2 separate regions of the Homo sapiens genome follow, and region 1 is linked to region 2. The links come from fine-mapping of genetic effects on gene expression. A gene starts in region 2. The other region holds a variant in brackets. All regions are shown on one strand. Distances are between the middles of the regions. Region 1 overlaps ZNF335 (zinc finger protein 335). Region 2 holds the start of PCIF1 (phosphorylated CTD interacting factor 1).

What was found. PIP is the estimated chance that this variant, and not a neighbour inherited with it, causes the effect. A credible set is the group of variants that fine-mapping cannot tell apart.
Region 1: its variant is the best candidate, but not a certain one, in a credible set for the expression of PCIF1 in monocytes after LPS (Quach 2016, PIP 0.66).

The regions. Positions count from the first base shown.
Region 1 is chr20:45,961,682-45,964,181 of GRCh38, reverse strand. It overlaps ZNF335 (zinc finger protein 335), which reads left to right. Exons shown (of 28, transcript NM_022095.4): 8 at 192-444; 9 at 532-709; 10 at 2,000-2,112. Among named protein-coding and RNA genes, the nearest start is that of ZNF335, 9.3 kb to the left of the region's middle. The variant AC/C (reference allele first, on the strand shown) is at 1,366.
Region 2 is chr20:45,933,034-45,935,972 of GRCh38, reverse strand. PCIF1 (phosphorylated CTD interacting factor 1) reads right to left here and starts at 1,290. Exons shown (of 17, transcript NM_022104.4): 1 at 1,169-1,290. It overlaps LOC107985388 (pre-mRNA-splicing factor cwc22-like), which reads left to right and starts at 902. Exons shown (of 1, transcript NR_171669.1): 1 at 902-2,479. RefSeq lists a silencer at 760-969 and enhancers at 598-1,288, 1,289-1,980, 2,240-2,389, 2,672-2,939.

The DNA of each region.
Region 1 (2,500 bases), 28 kb before region 2:
ATGTCGGCTGTTGGGCGGTAGTATCCATGCTGCCCTCTAACCACAGGCTGTCTGTGTCATGTGACTCAATGCACCCATCAGTGGTCTGTGATGAGTGGGTGGGAGGATATTTTGGCTGGCCTCTGGCCCACTTGTCCACGTCTGTCCTGGTGTGTCAGTGGCTGGCTTGTGACCTGGCATGTCCGTGGCAGGTGTGGAAGGAGAGCCTCTAGTGAGTTCCCAGAGTGGACAGAGCCCTCCAGAGCCACAGGATCCCGAGGCTCCCAGCTCCTCAGGCCCAGGACACCTGGTGGCCATGGGCAAGGTGAGCAGGACCCCTGTGGAAGCTGGTGTGAGCCAGTCAGATGCAGAGAACGCAGCCCCCTCCTGCCCGGATGAGCATGACACTCTGCCCCGGCGCCGAGGTCGACCTTCCAGGCGCTTCCTAGGCAAGAAATACCGCAAGTATGTGGAGCAGAGGTGAGGGTGGGGCATGCATGTGGTTAAGCCACCAACCCCACCAGACCTTTCCGCCACACTCTCATCCTGCAGGTACTATTACAAGTCGCCCAAACCACTTTTGAGGCCCTTCCTGTGCCGCATCTGTGGTTCTCGCTTTCTGTCCCACGAGGACCTGCGCTTCCACGTCAACTCCCATGAGGCTGGCGATCCCCAGCTCTTCAAGTGCCTGCAGTGCAGCTATCGTTCCCGCCGCTGGTCCTCGCTCAAGGTGCGGGAGCCAAAGAGGCTTGGGGCTCATGGGAGGGTGAAGAAGGCAAGCAGAGGCCAGCTGGTGCCACTGAGGGAGAATGGAGTCACAGAGCATTCTGGGTCACGCTCTCCTGCTGCTCTTCAGAACGCGTGTCTGGCTCACTGGCGTACCGAAGAACGCTCAGCTCCTCAGAGCTTGCGGGAATGTGGGGAGGGGCTGGGAAGGGCTGCCACAGGCGGTTTTGCAGGCGGCACAGTGCACAGTGGCAGCATATCTTCACCACCACAGACGCCATAAAACTGTTTTCATCTGATTCCATGTGTTAGAAAGATTTCCAGCAGATGGCAGTCATGTGTCTCAAGAAAAGGGTTCCTTTTAGGCCAGGTGCAGTGGCTTGCTCCTGTAATCCCAGCACTTTGCGAGGCTGAGGCAGGTGGATCACCTGAGGTCAGGAGTTTGAGACCAGCTTGGCCAACATGGAGAAACCCCATCTCTACTAAAAATACAAAATTAGCTGGGCATGGTGGTGCATGCCTGTAATCCCAACTACTTGGGATGCTGAGGCAGGAGAATCGCTTGAACCCGGGAGGCAGAGGTTGCAGTGAGCCAAGATCACACCATTGCACTCCAGCCTGGGCAACAAGAGCGAAACTCTGTCTCAAAAAAACAAACAA[AC/C]AAAAAAAAAAAAACGGTTCCTTTTTCTCCTTAACACAAGCTACCATGTGGCCTGCAGCAGCCCTGAGCCTTTTATGCAGTAACTGGATAATTAAATCCTTATTGCAGCCCAATGAGGTCGTAGGTGTCCATAGTCCCATTCTACTGACCCCCAGGAAACTGTGGCTCGGCCTGGCCAATGTGCAAGTTGGCAGCTGTGGGAGAGGGTACTTCCGGGCACGGTGGTCAGAGCGAGCCCCTGTGCTCTGTGCACGCTGTGCTGTGGGCTGTTATGTGGGTTCTGCAGAGAAGATGTCTCGTGACGCAGTGGGAGAGGTGGAGGCTGCGGCGCCATGCTGCCTGGCTTCAGCTCCAAGCTCTGCCATCGCAAGGTCCCTCCACCCTGAGACTCAGGTTCCTTCTTTGTCAAGTTGTGAGCCAGCACAGAGCCTGGCACAGAGTGGGTGCTCTCGCTGGGGACAGTCCCCGGGCCTTCCTAGGTTTTGACCCTTGCGTCGGGGTGTGTTGTCCACATGCCTGTGTTCTGTGAGCTGCTCCCGCAGCAACCCTAAGACTGTGGCCACAGGCATGGTGGGGACGGGGATGGGAGAGGAGGCCAAGCCCCAGCCCACCATCCTTTTGTCTGTCTCCCAGGAGCACATGTTCAACCACGTGGGCAGCAAGCCCTACAAGTGTGACGAGTGCAGCTACACCAGTGTCTACCGGAAGGACGTCATTCGGCACGCCGCTGTGCACAGCCGGGACCGGTCAGTGTGGGGGTGGGAGGGACCTGGGCAAGAGAGGCCAGGTTGGGTGGGGAAGTGGAGGCCCGGGATAACCATGGTTCCCACTTACCGTGCTCCTGCTCTGAGCCAGCCCCATTTGCTGCACACTACAGGCATGAGCAGAAAGGCAGTTCACCCCAGTTCATTTGGCTTAGAACAGGACAGTACCAGGCCTTGAGGTCCCCAGCTCAGCCTCTTACCTCTTGTGAGCTTTAGTTTCTCATCAAACGGGGACAGTTGTTGAAGGGATTGAAGGAAATTGTGTACCTAAAGGAGTTCAGTAAATGATCCAAGATCTTCTGGACTCCAGATCCTACTCATCTCTCACAGGGCTGAGAGTGCACCTGAGACAGAGAAACACAAGTTCTTA
Region 2 (2,939 bases):
TCCTGTGATATTGATGCACCGGGTAGATGAACTTTGCAGAATACGCACAAGCGGCACAGCTTAGTGTGAGGCTAAATGGGGACACTGCAGTATTTCCAAAGCCAGCTGTGCATCAGAATCATCTTGGAGTTTGTAAAAAAAAAAAAAAAATCAGACTCCTGTGCCTCACTGCGCATCTCAGAAGCCAGAAATAAATACGGAGGTGAGGCACACAAGAATTTGTATTTTTAAAACGCACCGTAAGAGTGACTGGGAGACAGGATGACTCATTTTTTCACACTATTTGAAAAAATGTACCCATTTTTTGCAATTAAAACCATTTTTAATTTCCTATGTGACTTGAGCGCAGCAGGTCTGTGGCCGAAGTACCAGCCCCTGGGTTGGACAGACCCGGATTCCGGGCCCTTCTGCTTTCCGGCTTATAAACCGGAATCACTCGACCGTTATATGTAGAGTCCAGCATTGTACGCTCCCAGTAAGACATAACTGCTCTTAAGTTAACGTCTTTATTTATCCTGTGGCTTCCCGACCCCCACGCATACCGCAGTTTGAGAATTACCGCTGCTCAAGGATAAACAACTCTATCTGCGCAACCAGAAAAACCCACCAGAAGCCAGAGTCCGAGTCCGGGATTGGAGGCACGTGGGGCGGGACCATCTCCGCAATGTACCAATCAGAATTCTCCGGCCCAGTAGGGAGGAGTCAAAGGGCGAACAAAGTACGCAGGCGCGACGGCGCACGAAGGCGAGAGGCGAGCTCCAGCGCGCGCGCGCGCGCGCACCTTCCCCTCCCCCTACCCCAGCGAGGGTGGGCTGTTTGGCGCGCGCGCGCGCGCCGGCCCATCTCTCGGGCTCCGCCCCCCGCCCCGCCGCGCGCTCCCGCCCCCGGGCTGAGGCGACTCAGAGTCGGAGCCCGACACAAAGGCGGTGGCGGCGGCAGCAGCGGAGGGGCCCTAGAGCCCGCTCCGCTGGGGCTCTCCGGGCCCACCTCCCTCACTTCGGCCACCGGCGCGGCCGCCCACCCGCGGGTCTAAGATGGCGGCGGCAACAGAGACAGGGCAAGCGGCAGTCCCGAGCAGAAAGCGCCGGAGGGGCCGCCGCCCCCCAGCTTCGGATCCCCAGACCCTGGCGCGGCTCGCTGCGGGACCATGGCTTCCTGGGACTCTTACCTGCCCGGAGCGGACTGGAGGGGACGCGGCTACACGTTCTGCTCGACCGCCCGTTTTGCCGCCTCCGCCTCGCCCTCCCCAGCGCCGCTGCCGCCATCTTGTGTCCCGGGCCGGGACTCCGCGCTGCGCATGCGCTGGTACCGCCTCTGAGGGACCTCGCCGCGGCCGCGCCGCCATCTTGAGTGTGGCAGGGTCGGCTGGCTCCTCGCACCCAGCTTGCTTTCGGCCCCCTCCCCTTCTTCCCATCCGTCCCTGCTGTTCCTTGTGGCGCTGAGGAAGGGGAGACAGCTTTGTAGGCCTGCGGGTGGACTGAGGAAGGAATGAATTCACTGGCACGTCCCCGCCTCAGTTTCCCCCTCGAGCACACACGCAGGAGCCGGATGTTCGCGGTGGGCGGTGCGCGGCGGGGTTGGACTGAGCGTGCGCACTGGGGGGCGTGGGGGCTGTCTTAGAACCTGCGGGGGTCTCGGGTTCTGCCGCCGGCCCAGGGGAGGCATCGTGGTGACGTAGGCTCCGGACGTAGCAAGGACCTGGGTCCTGGCACCCGCGCGGCTCTGCCTCTTCCAGCCAGTCTCTTTCCCTCTCTGGGCCTTTGTGCTGCGTGGTGTCCAAATGTTAAGAAGCCCTGCCCCATGCCCGGGCTACATATACATCGAACCCAAGCTGTAAATGCTCTTGAGTAGAAGCAACTTAAACTAGCCTTCGGGGGCAAGTAATAGAGATGGCTTTCGGCAGAGTTGGGAAATCAACTAAATGCATTGTAGGGCCTTTCCAACATTGACATCTGTGGCCATTAGTTGCAGTTCAAAGCCTCACTGAGCCCTCAAACCAGCTACAGCGGGTAGCCTGGCAGGGAACTGGCAGCTGTGAGGTGCTCCTCATCCGGCTCCCTGCAGGATTCTTTTTGGTAGGAGCCTGCAGGCGTCCGAGTGGTAGCTCCACCCATCTCCGGTCTCCCCAGCAAGCATCCCTTCCAGTGCTAGCTTGAGAAGAGGAAAAGCTTGCCACCTGCTGTCAGACCGGCGCTTGTGTGGAGCCAGGGGCTGTAGGTACCCCGGCTGAGTAGCCTCTCAGATGTCCATGGTCCTGGCTGCACGCCAGCGTGGGGGCAGGCAGGCGGACGCTCAAGAAAAACGGAGGCACCGATATGAGTAGTAATTGAGAACGAGGGTTCATGATCCTCATCTGATTTCAATCCCTGCTCCTCCACCCAAAATGTGTGGCCTTGAAGGAGTTAACCAATTTAAATTTTAGTTTCCTCAGTGGAAGATAATAAATCCGCCTACCTCATAAAGGTTTGGTGAGAATTAACTCAGGTGATGCATGTGAAGTCCTCAGCGCAATACCTGGCGCTTCCTAAGTGCTGAATCGGTTAGCCGTGATCATCTCACAGTGGCATGAGCATTGCTCCAAGTAGATTTGAGCCCTCCAGAAATAAGCCAGCTCTATATAGGCACAGCAGTTCTGCCCTCGCAGAGCTTCTCGTTCAGATAAGAGGCCTGATGGGAAACCAGACTCCTGGGTCCTGTCTCAGTTCTGGAAGGGTGGGGGGCCAGCTTTGATTTATGCCTGCTGCCCTGGCATAATTACTAATATTGCCTCCTTTTTCAGAAGTGCCCTGCTTTGGGCCGGGCGTGGTGGCTCACCCCGGTAATCCCAGCACTTTGGGAGGCCGACGCAGGTGGACCACCTGAGGTCAGGAATTCAAGACCAGCCTGGCCAACACGGCGAAACCCCGTCTCTACTAAAATTACAAACATGAGCCAGGCCT